Regions from separate parts of the Homo sapiens genome. Here region 1 is linked to region 2. A link means that fine-mapping ties the variant in region 2 to the expression of a gene that starts in the linked region. Tissue or cell type: whole blood. Region 2 holds a variant in brackets; the other region holds the start of a gene. All regions are shown on one strand. Distances are from middle to middle.

Region 1 (5,151 bases), 250 kb before region 2:
GCACAGAAAGACCTTCTTAAAGTGCAGGTTTTGATTCAGTATGTCTGGGGCCTGAGATTCTGCATTTCTAACAAGCTCCTGGGTGATGCCAGTGGTGGGGTTCTGGAACCGCCCTTGAGTAGCACCGTAATGCTTGCTAAAGAATCATAGTTGTCTGTAGTTTTCCCAGCAGCCTCTAGATGTCCCCGTCATCCATGAGATACTGCTTCCAGAACTTTAAAACGAGCACAGCCTCCAAGGCCTGAGACGGAAAGGAGTATTTATTGAAATACTCAAGAGACGTATCTAGAAACTGGTGTTTGGATTTATTGTTTCTACACGGGACTGACTCTTTGGTGAAAAAGTGTTTACCTCTTTTTTTTTTTTTTTTGGAAAAAAACGGCCAGGCGCAGTGGCTCACGCCTGTAATCCCAACACTTTGGGAGGCTAAGGCAGGCAGGCAGATCACCTGAGGCCAGGAGTTCGAGACCAGCCTGGCCAACATGGCGAAACCCCGTCTCTACTAAAAATACAAAAAAAAAAAAAAAGCGGGGGCGTGGTGGTGAACGCCTGTAATCCCAGCTACTTGGGAGGCTGAGGGGGAAGAATCGCTTGAACCGGGGAGGCGGAGGTTGCAGTGAGCCGAGATTGCACCACTGCACTCCAGCCTGGGCGACAGAGCAAGACTCCGTCTCTAAATAAATAAATAAATAAATAAATAAATAATAAAAATGTCTTGAAATCAAGTTGGTTGTCGAAGAACTTCCCAGCTAACCTACTTTATTTACAATGGGATGCTAAATCCAAGTCAGAACATCTCAGAAATGAGCAGGTAGCCCTACATAAAAGTTCCAAGTACAGATAATTCTTTCCACAACATCTTAAAACTTGGATTGTTTTAATAAACTATTGTTACTATTAATTTTTTCACCATAAATTCACTTATAAACCACCAGTATTAACTAAAGCCATCCTTGCCTCCTGTGTAGACCACCCAGAGCCTCCTCCATGGCTGGGTAGATACAAAAATAAAACTGGCCACGTATTGAGTGTTGATGATGTGCTCATTGAATGAGCTCATTTAATCTTCACAGCAGCCCTATGAGGGGACTATTTTATTATCCCTTTTTATAGGTGAGGAAACAGGCATGGGACGGTTCAGTAACATCCATGGTTGCACAAATAGAAAATGGTAATCACTATATTAGACTGCCATTCAGACTCAAACGACATTTGTTGAGTGAGTTAATTTTTTTTCTTTTCTCTTTTTTCTTTTTTTTTTTTTTTTGAGATGGAGCCCTGCTCTGTCACCCAGGCTGGAGTGCAGTGGTACCATCTTGGCTCACTGCAACCTCTGCCCCCTGGGTTCAAGCCATTCTCCTGCCTCAGCCTCCTGAGTAGCTGGGATTACAGATGCGCACCATCACACTCAGCTAATTTTTGGATTTTTAGTAGAGACTGGGTTTCACCATGTTGGCCAGGCTGGTCTCGAACTCCTGATCTCAGGTGATCCGCCCGCCTCGGCCTTCTAAAGTGCTAGGATTACAGGCGTGAGCCACCACACCCTGCCTAATTTTTTTTGGTTTTCCAATAAGCACTGTGGTGTATGTGCTGTTAACTGTCTCCGGTGGACTCCGCAAGCTCGATGTACACAGTGCTGGGCTGGTGCCATGGCTGCTACTCTATGAAAAGTTTTTGACATCACACTGAATGGCTGAGACACTATAAACATTTTACTTTTCAACTCAACCTCGTGTCCTAGCAAAGGTGCTTTATCTAGTTTCTGTAGCTGTTCGAATGAAAGGCACAAATTTGGTGAGCTGCTGAGAATGGAGCAGACCTGGCACGGTGTGATCTAAGAGACTGGGGTGAACAGATGAATCAAGTTGCCTGTGACATTTGTGAGACACGGTGCTAGTATTCACCTTACTGTCTGGAGGGCCCAACCTCAAAGCCACTAAACATATGACATTAGCCAAGTCCTCTGATCTCTCTAGACAGCAGTTTTCTCCTAAGACAAGACGGCTTTTTGGCTTGGCTGAAGTAAGCCAGGTGATTTTAAACAATGCATTAAGCTCTTCTGAAATCTAACAGCCTTGTTCCATGCTCCTCGCTATGGAGAAGAGAGCGCTGAGGGAAAGAGGCCCTGTAGTCTTTTGCCAATGGTGTCGGATGGGCTGCTCAGTCCCAGCACTTGAAAGTTGCAAACCTAGTCAAGAAAGTGCACACAGTACTTCGGATTTTTATGAGATATAATTACATTGACATGACGCCTCATGATTTACCCATGACTCGGGGGGTTTCCAAACTCCAAACACCTCCAGACTGGAGCCCGTCAATCAGCTTCCTCTTGCTTTTCGTGGACTCCCACTGTGGAAACCTGCTGGTGTTTTGCTGCGGTTTCATTTCCCTCTGCGGAGGAGCCAGGGCAACCTTGGCCAGACAGGCACCTAGCTGTGCCCTTCTTTCCAGGGCCTCTTCTCCACTCAGCTGACTCCCCTGGCCTGCCTAACGCTCCTGACTGAGACGGTTTTCCGGCTTCCTCTAACAGGTTGGCGGGAAGTTGATCTGCAAACGCGAGGCAAAGCAGGAGTGTCCTTATTCGGTAGGCCTCTGATGGGCCACCAGAGCCGTCCGAAAGTCCTAGCGGAGTGATTGACAGTGGCCATTTCAAAGCCTGAGTTCACCTTCTTTGCAACCACAATCACGACCCAGAATAAACTGCTTCCTGGAAGCCGGCTAGTTGCACCTGGCCTGAAGTCAGTCTCGGGACTGCCTCTCAGGACCCCAGACAGGGTTTCGGGTTCCCGCCTGGGTCACGTGTACGGAGGCTGCCAGTGCGCACTCAGCCCGGCCCGCCGGTCGCCACAGCAACACCAATCCCGGGTTCAAGCCCGCCTAGGAAGTGCGGTCCCCGCCTGACCGCCCCGGGCTTAAGGGAGCCTGGCTAGGCCGGCAGCCGGATGGTCCCGCAGCTCGGGGCCGGCCATGCTTCGCGGTCCGTGGCGCCAGCTTTGGCTCTTTTTCCTGCTGCTGCTCCCGGGCGCGCCTGAGCCCCGCGGCGCCTCCAGGCCGTGGGAGGGAACCGACGAGCCGGGCTCGGCCTGGGCCTGGCCGGGCTTCCAGCGCCTGCAGGAGCAGCTCAGGGCGGCGGGTGCCCTCTCCAAGCGGTACTGGACGCTCTTCAGCTGCCAGGTGTGGCCCGACGACTGTGACGAGGACGAGGAGGCAGCCACGGGGCCCCTGGGTAAGACCCCGTCCCCACGGTCCGCCGTTCGCTGCGGAGCAGAGTGCGATCCGGGCGCGGCTGTGGTCGCCTCGCTCCTGTCCGGGGCGACATCTGGGCCCGCAGTCCTGCTCTGCTCAGCCGCCGGTACCGGCTGTGGGCGGGGGCAGCCTCCGCGGAGCAGGGAGCCCCATCACCGCCCTTGCCCCACCCGCGTCCCCTGCGCACCCCCCTGGCGCCCGGCTTCCCGTCCCCCGCCTCCCCTGATCCCTGCGCTTTCCAGATTCTCTCGCACCGCCTGTGCCATCTCCCAGCCCACCCTGGCGTTATTCGAAGGTGTTGCTCTTGACAGCTCTAGGGAACGTCCGCTGTGGACATGCCTGGTGACTGCCGTCTCCCTTGCTGCTTTTGGACGCAGGGCTTGAGGACCGACAGTGGGCCGAGTCGGGGCTGGGAGTTAGAATCTGAGTTCTGGGTGTCCCTCTGTCCCTGACAAGTTGTGTGGCAAGGTTGCCGCATCACTGTAGAGCACCGGATGGTCTCCTCTCGGTCTCACAGCTCCTCCTTTTCCAGGCTGGCGCCTTCCTCTGTTGGGCCAGCGGTACCTGGACCTCCTGACCACGTGGTACTGCAGCTTCAAAGACTGCTGCCCTAGAGGGGATTGCAGAATCTCCAACAACTTTACAGGTTGGACCCCGCATGGCTTCAAGGGGCTAGGGATCTGTGGGGAGGGGAGGCAGTCCAGGGGAAATGGTTAGATGCAAGGGACCTTTCGTCATCCTGCCCAGCCTCCCGACAAGCAGGAACTGCCACAGTCTGACTGAAGTTTTGAGGGAGTACCAAATGCTTGAGTCAGGGAAGCCCCTTTTTAGCCTCTAGCTTAATAGCCCAGGCAAACTGAGCTGTTTGTCAGGCCCAGAGCACCTTGTTTCACTCTAAACAGAAACAGCTACCTCTCAGAGGGGGCTGGAACTATCCAGAGAGAACTGATCAGAAATTCTGGGTTGTGATTAAAAGTGTCCCTTTCTTTTCTTTTTTTTTTTTGAGACGGAGGCTTGCTCTGTCACCCACACTGGAGTGCAGTGGTGCGATCTCAGCTCACTGCACCCTCCGCCTCCTGGGTTCAAGCAATTTTCCTGCCTCAGCCTCCCGAGTAGCTGGGATTACAGGTGCCTGCCACCACGTCCGGCTAATTTCTGTATTTTTAGTAGAGGCGGGGGGGGGGGGGGGGGGCGGGTTTCACCATGTTGGCCAGGCCGGTCTCGAACTCCTGACCTTGTGATTTGCCTGCCTTGGCCTCCAAGAGTGCTGTGATTACAGGCGTGAGCCACTGTGCCATGGCAACCAGTATTTTCTAATTAGTTTGGGTTGCTTGATTTGCATATCGCAGTTGATTTGCATTTTCACTCTCACAAGGTGATCTTTGGCCCCATGTTCTGAAACCTGTTCAGACATTTGCAAAAGCTTCCTCTCTTTTCCCCAGGAGCAATTTCTTGCCCAGAGTTCTCCTGATCCCAGGTCCTTCAATCTCCATAAATGAGGCCCACCCCAGATATTTAGGTCACTTAATTGGCCAAAATGCCAATAACACAGTGTGTTTAGGGACACAGTCTGGCTCAGGACAGAAGATAGGACTACATACAGGTCAGGAAGTCTTAATTTGGATCACTGCTGACTTGGATAAGACCCTAGGTAGCAATTAGCAAGTTACTTTCTGTCCTCAACATGCCTTTTGTTCGACAAGGGCCTGGATATCCAAATTGTTCTGGCCAGCGGATTGGAGACCCCTCCTAGTCGTGCCTCTTCCTTGCTGGCAAACTGAAGAGTCCTTCCCAAGTGTCCGTTTCCTCAGCTGTATTTTATTTTATTTTTTTTACTTATTTATTTTGAGACCAAGTCAGTCTCTGTCACCTAGGCTGGAGCAATCTCGTCTCACTGCAAACTCT
Region 2 (5,151 bases):
TGGGGGTAAGGAACAGGTATCTGTGTCTGTTAAGGAAATTTTCTGTGGACTTTGACAAATCATTTCCACCTGTATCTCATTGGCTACCTAGGTGCAAAGAGAGACTGGGAAACTTATTTACTCTAAGCAGTCATGTGCCCAGATAGAAATCAGGGATTCTAGTACTAAGAAAGGGGGTAGGCACTGATAGGGTTGACAAATAACAGTTTCTACTATGGCTGTCCATTTTTCTTTGCTGTCCCAATCTACTGGTCAAATTTCACCTTTTTGCTATGCAAGTGTGACTATACATTTTTCTGATATTTTCCTTTCTGCCTTTTCTCATTTAAATGCACGAGTGTAAGAATCTCTAGTCTATTTTGAATAATTTTGTGAAAGTCAGTTTATTGTGCTTTATGATTTCATCACTTACAAAAGGTAGACAGGTACCTGTCCTGTTGCCCTCGAATGTTTAGCAGTTCAATTTAATGAATGCCTGCTTGGTTTCTTTGTCTATCAGGTACTACATTAAGTGCTGGGATTTTAAAGAAGTTGTGTTTTCTGTTCTCATGCTAACTGAGAACACTATATGCAAAATGCATGAGCAAGGGGAACAGTGACTTAATTAGATACCTTAAAAATGTTCTTTGGCCAGGCACAGTGGCTCACGCCTGTAAACCCAGCACTTTGGGAGGCCAAGGCAGGCAGATCATTTGAGGCCAGGAGTTCGAGACCAGCCTGGGCAACACTGTGAAACCCCGTCTCTACTAAAAATACAAAATTATCAGTTAACAAAAAGATACATCGTTTAAAATCAGTTGGGTGGGGGGCAGACAGTGAGATGCCAAAGAGCATATACACTTGAATATATAGAATTTCAAGTAAGTGCAATGAAGGAAAAGAATGAGATTCAGTAAGAGAGAATAGAAAGAACTTTAGAGTGAATTATCAGGAGACCTTTCTGAGGAGTCAATTTAGTGTAAGTCCTAAGCACTGTATTACCTGTTCCATTGTGTTACTTGTTTTGCTCAGAAAGGTCAGGTTTCTGGTACCATGCCACCAAGATTAAAAGATTCTCTGTGCAAAGACAGGCAGCAAATCAGAGGAAGAAATAATTTTTAGACTAGCAATATATGACCTTGTGGAGTTAATGTTCTTTAAAACCATTTATGAAGAAATTGTGATCAAGGGACCTACTTTTTTTTTGAGACACTGAAAATATTATTATTTACTGATTGGTTTACTTTGTTTTTTTCTTTCAGCATACTTTAAGATTGTTTTATGTCTCTGTACCTTTGAAAGAGTTATTTACCCATAAATGACCCTGACCTTTTTTCATTGTAATACTCAGTCCAAAGTAATCTCTGCCTGGAAGCCTTTTTAGGTAGAAGAGTTATCTTTCTAAGATGCAAATCTGAACATGTTTACAAATCTTGTGCTTAAAATGTCATTGGCTTCCAGATGTCTTTAGGATAAAAAATTCTTAAAATGGCTTAAAGGTCCATGATCTAGTCCCTACTTGCTTTTCCAGCCTTATCTCTGATCATTATCATCTGTTCCTTTAACTATGTGTTCCAACCATAGGGTCTTTGTATTATGGTTGATCCCTATTCTTGGAATCTTAGAGGTTATCTAATTCAGCTGCTTATTTAATACAAAAGGTTTCCTTAAGCTCTAAAAATGTAGTTTACTAGATTACCTAAAAAAGCACCTTTTTTAGTTCCTAGTTAACTGCCTCCTCCCTTCTGCCGCTTCTCCCTTCCTTCCTTCTCTCCATCCATCTGTCATGGTGCTAGGGCTGTCAGAGTCCACTGGCTGCATGAAATTAATATCAGTAGATACGAGATTGAAAAGATAAGCAAATTAGAAAGACTATAACCTCAACATTATTTTCAGGTTACTGATACCAGACATTATTCAGATTTATTAGTGATCACATACTGAGTTCTAATTAACAAGTTTCATGTGATAGAAGTCAGAAGGCAGAAGTGGACTGTTTCTTGTACTATATTTCTTAATATTCCCTCTTACAAAGGGAGTAACAATAATAAGCAGTTACTCGTTATTGTCATCACTGCTAGGATCTGTGAAAGGAGGAGATTCAGGAAATGTAAGCGTCCACAGAGCAGAGTTCTTTCTTCCTTGTGCCCCAGTGGCAGCACCTTCTATCAACTTTAATTCCTCAGAGAAAGAGGAGAAGGGCATTAGGAAATGAACATTAGGCATGTAATTATAATGCCATGTAAAGGAATGTGGTAGGTTTAGTTACCTTTTAACAATAAAAGGACTAAATGATAGGATTTGCTTAAATTACAATTTTTATTGTACATTGTTTTATTGTTCCTCATAGGTTAGCTCAGACTGAGGGGGAGAGGTTGGAACAATGAATACCTGGAGAGTGACAACTGTGTCAGGTGCTATCCTGTGTGTTTTCAGTTCCAGACCGTTATCCATGTGTAATAGTTTCTATCCTGCCGAGCTTCATTTATAGAATCAAATTGAAAGGGAAAACACCTGTACAACCTGGCCAATCAGACAGCCTCACATATCTTTTTCTTCATAGTATCTTTTAACTAGGATATTCCTCTTCTAAAAAAAAAAAAACAAAGTCTTGGCTGGGCACAGTGGCTCACACCTGTAATCCCAGCACTTTGGGAGGCTGAGGTGGGCGGATCACTTGAGGCCAGGAGTTCAAGACCAGTCTGGCCAACATAGTGAGACCACATCTCTATTTAAAAAGGTAAAAGTTTCAGGCGGGGCACGGTGGCTCACGTCTGTAATCCCAGCACTTTGGGAGGCCGAGGCGGGCGAATCACCTGAGGTTCGAGACCAGCCTGACCACCATGGAGAAACCCCGTCTCTACTAAAAGTACAAAATGGGC[TG/T]GGTGTGGTGGTGCATACCTATAATCCTAGCTACTTGGGAGGCTAAGGCAAGAGAATTGCTTGAACCTGGGAGGTGGAGGTTGCGGTGAGCTAGTATCATGCCGTTGCCCTCTAGCCTGGGCAATAAGAGTGAAACTCCGTCTCAAAAAAAAAAAAAAAAGTTTCAAGGAAGAACTCATTTTTTGTCAAGTGGTGAAAGCAGCTAGCTGAATAATATTCAGGACTGTCAACCAAATGGGAGGTCAGAAGCTCACCCAGTCGGCTGCAACCATGGCGGAGCCAGAGGGGCTCAAGGGGCCTGTGCTATACCAAGGCTGCAGTTCCTTGCAATGCTCTAGATGACCCTGGGCAGTCTATTCTTGAGCCCCTTCATAGTCGCTGTGATTGTCAACTAAAGAAAAGCTTTTTAAGAATTAAAGTTATTGTATTTAGAAGTCTTATTGAGAACTGTAGACAGAGCCTGCTGCCTGGGAGTAGTCTTTTAGAGAGGTTTTGTTAGCCTTTTCTGGCACTGTATTTTAGTCTACTGTTTATGTATAGGTGGTGGGGGTTTCGCATATGTAAAATTATGTTACGTTTGTTTAGAAGTTAGAAGTTATATTAGAGTAGAATATGTTAAGGTTTGGTGTAAGAGTATATTTGGTTATAGATTATAGAAGTGTAATTACTAACTGTCATTTATAGGAAAAGGCAAGGTTATTATCTTCAAGGAATATAGTGACTTAGGCAAGATATGTGGGGGGAGTGTGTGTTTTATTTTGTCTTAAAAGTATTTGGAAAGCTGTGTATCATCATAGAGTCAAGAACTTTGTGAAATTGTGTTGGCAAGCAGAAATGAGTAAATATGGCTTTTTTTGTGGTTTGTTATTTTGTCTCGCATATGGATACCTAAACTACTCACATATGAATGTTACTTCAAGAAAAGAAAATACATGAATTGATCATATTAAAATAGTTACCTTATAAGTGACATTCTGTACCGTCTGAGGTGTCAGAGGTTGGGGTCATAGATGAGGGAGATTGTGAAAGAAATTTACAATACTGGGCCAGGTGCGGTGGCTTGTGCCTGTAATCCCAGCACTTTGGGAGGCTGAGGTGGGCGGATCACCTGAGGTTGGGAGTTGGAGACCAGCCTGACCAACATGGAGAAACCCTGTCTCTACGAAAAATACAAAATTAGCCAGGTGTGGTGGCGCATGCCTGTAATCCCAGCTACTCGGGAATCTGAGGCAGGAGAATCACTTGAACCCAGGAGGCGGAGGTTGCGGTGAGCCGAGATCGTGCCATTGCACTCCAGCCTAGGCAACAAGAGGAAAACTCCATCTCAAAAAAAAAAAAAAAAAAAAAAGAAAGAAAAAAGAGAACTTAGAATCATGGTAATTATAACGTGGGGATAAGGCACAGTGCCGCCTGCCTGTAATTCTAACATTTTGGGAAGCTGAGGCGGGAAGATTGCTTGAGCCCTAGAGTTCAGCTTGGGCAACATAGGGAGACCCTATCTCTACAAAAAATAAAATATTTGCCGGCAGTGGTGGCGCACACCTGTGATCCTAGCTACTTGGGAGGCTGAGGTATTTTGTTTTATGCTTACAAGGGGTATACATTTTAAAAGGGTATAAATCACTATGTTGCCTTTTAGGTAGCTGTTTCTGAAACTTCAAGTCAGATACAGGAATTGATTTTTTGCTTTTACTCCTGCGAACTCACTATGTCTTTCTTTTGATCCAGCTCTGTTTAAGGGAGCCCTTTAGAGAAATGCTAATGACTCACAAGCATGTATTAGTTCCCCATCTTTTTCTTTGTTTTAAAATTCTAGGAATTGAAGCCATTTTTTATGAAGGAAGTTGGCAGTCACTTTGATGATTTTGTGACCAATCTCATTGAAAAGTCAGCATCATTAGATAATGGTGGGTGCGCTCTCACAACCTTTTCTGTTCTTGAAGGAGAGAAAAACAACCATAGAGCGAAGTAAGTATGTGCTATTTTCTTTTAATGCAAACATCTACTCAGTATAGTTCAATGGTGAAAATGGACTGCGGCAAATATGCTTGAGTTCACACCCTGGTGTCACTTTCTATTGGCTGTGTGTTACATTGGGAAAGTTACTTAACCATTTGAAGGAGGATGGGGATTTCTTTGTCTTTACATATAAATTATAACATACATGCATACCTCTTTTAACACTAATGCCGGGCACAGTGGCTCACGCCTGTAATCCCAGCACTTTGGAAAGCTGAGGCAGGTGGAACACCTGAGGTCAGGAGTTCAAGATTAGCCTGGCCAACATGG

Which allele goes with the higher level. Positions count from the first base shown, and alleles are read on the strand shown. Sizes are in standard deviations (SD) of each study's normalised expression.
In carriers of allele T in region 2, the expression in whole blood of the gene that starts at base 2,909 in region 1 tends to be higher than with TG alone (large effect, 1.3 SD a copy in Lepik 2017).

What was found. PIP is the estimated chance that this variant, and not a neighbour inherited with it, causes the effect.
Region 1: TOR3A starts here. The variant in region 2 is fine-mapped to the expression of TOR3A in whole blood (Lepik 2017, PIP 0.95).

What each region holds. Positions count from the first base shown.
Region 1 is chr1:179,079,162-179,084,312 of GRCh38, forward strand. It overlaps TOR3A (torsin family 3 member A), which reads left to right and starts at 2,909. Exons shown (of 6, transcript NM_022371.4): 1 at 2,909-3,226; 2 at 3,779-3,892. The coding sequence starts at 2,968. RefSeq lists silencers at 2,884-3,173, 3,314-3,483, 4,474-4,533.
Region 2 is chr1:179,330,828-179,335,978 of GRCh38, forward strand. It overlaps SOAT1 (sterol O-acyltransferase 1), which reads left to right. Exons shown (of 16, transcript NM_003101.6): 4 at 4,679-4,830. Among named protein-coding and RNA genes, the nearest start is that of AXDND1, 33 kb to the right of the region's middle. The variant TG/T (reference allele first, on the strand shown) is at 2,862.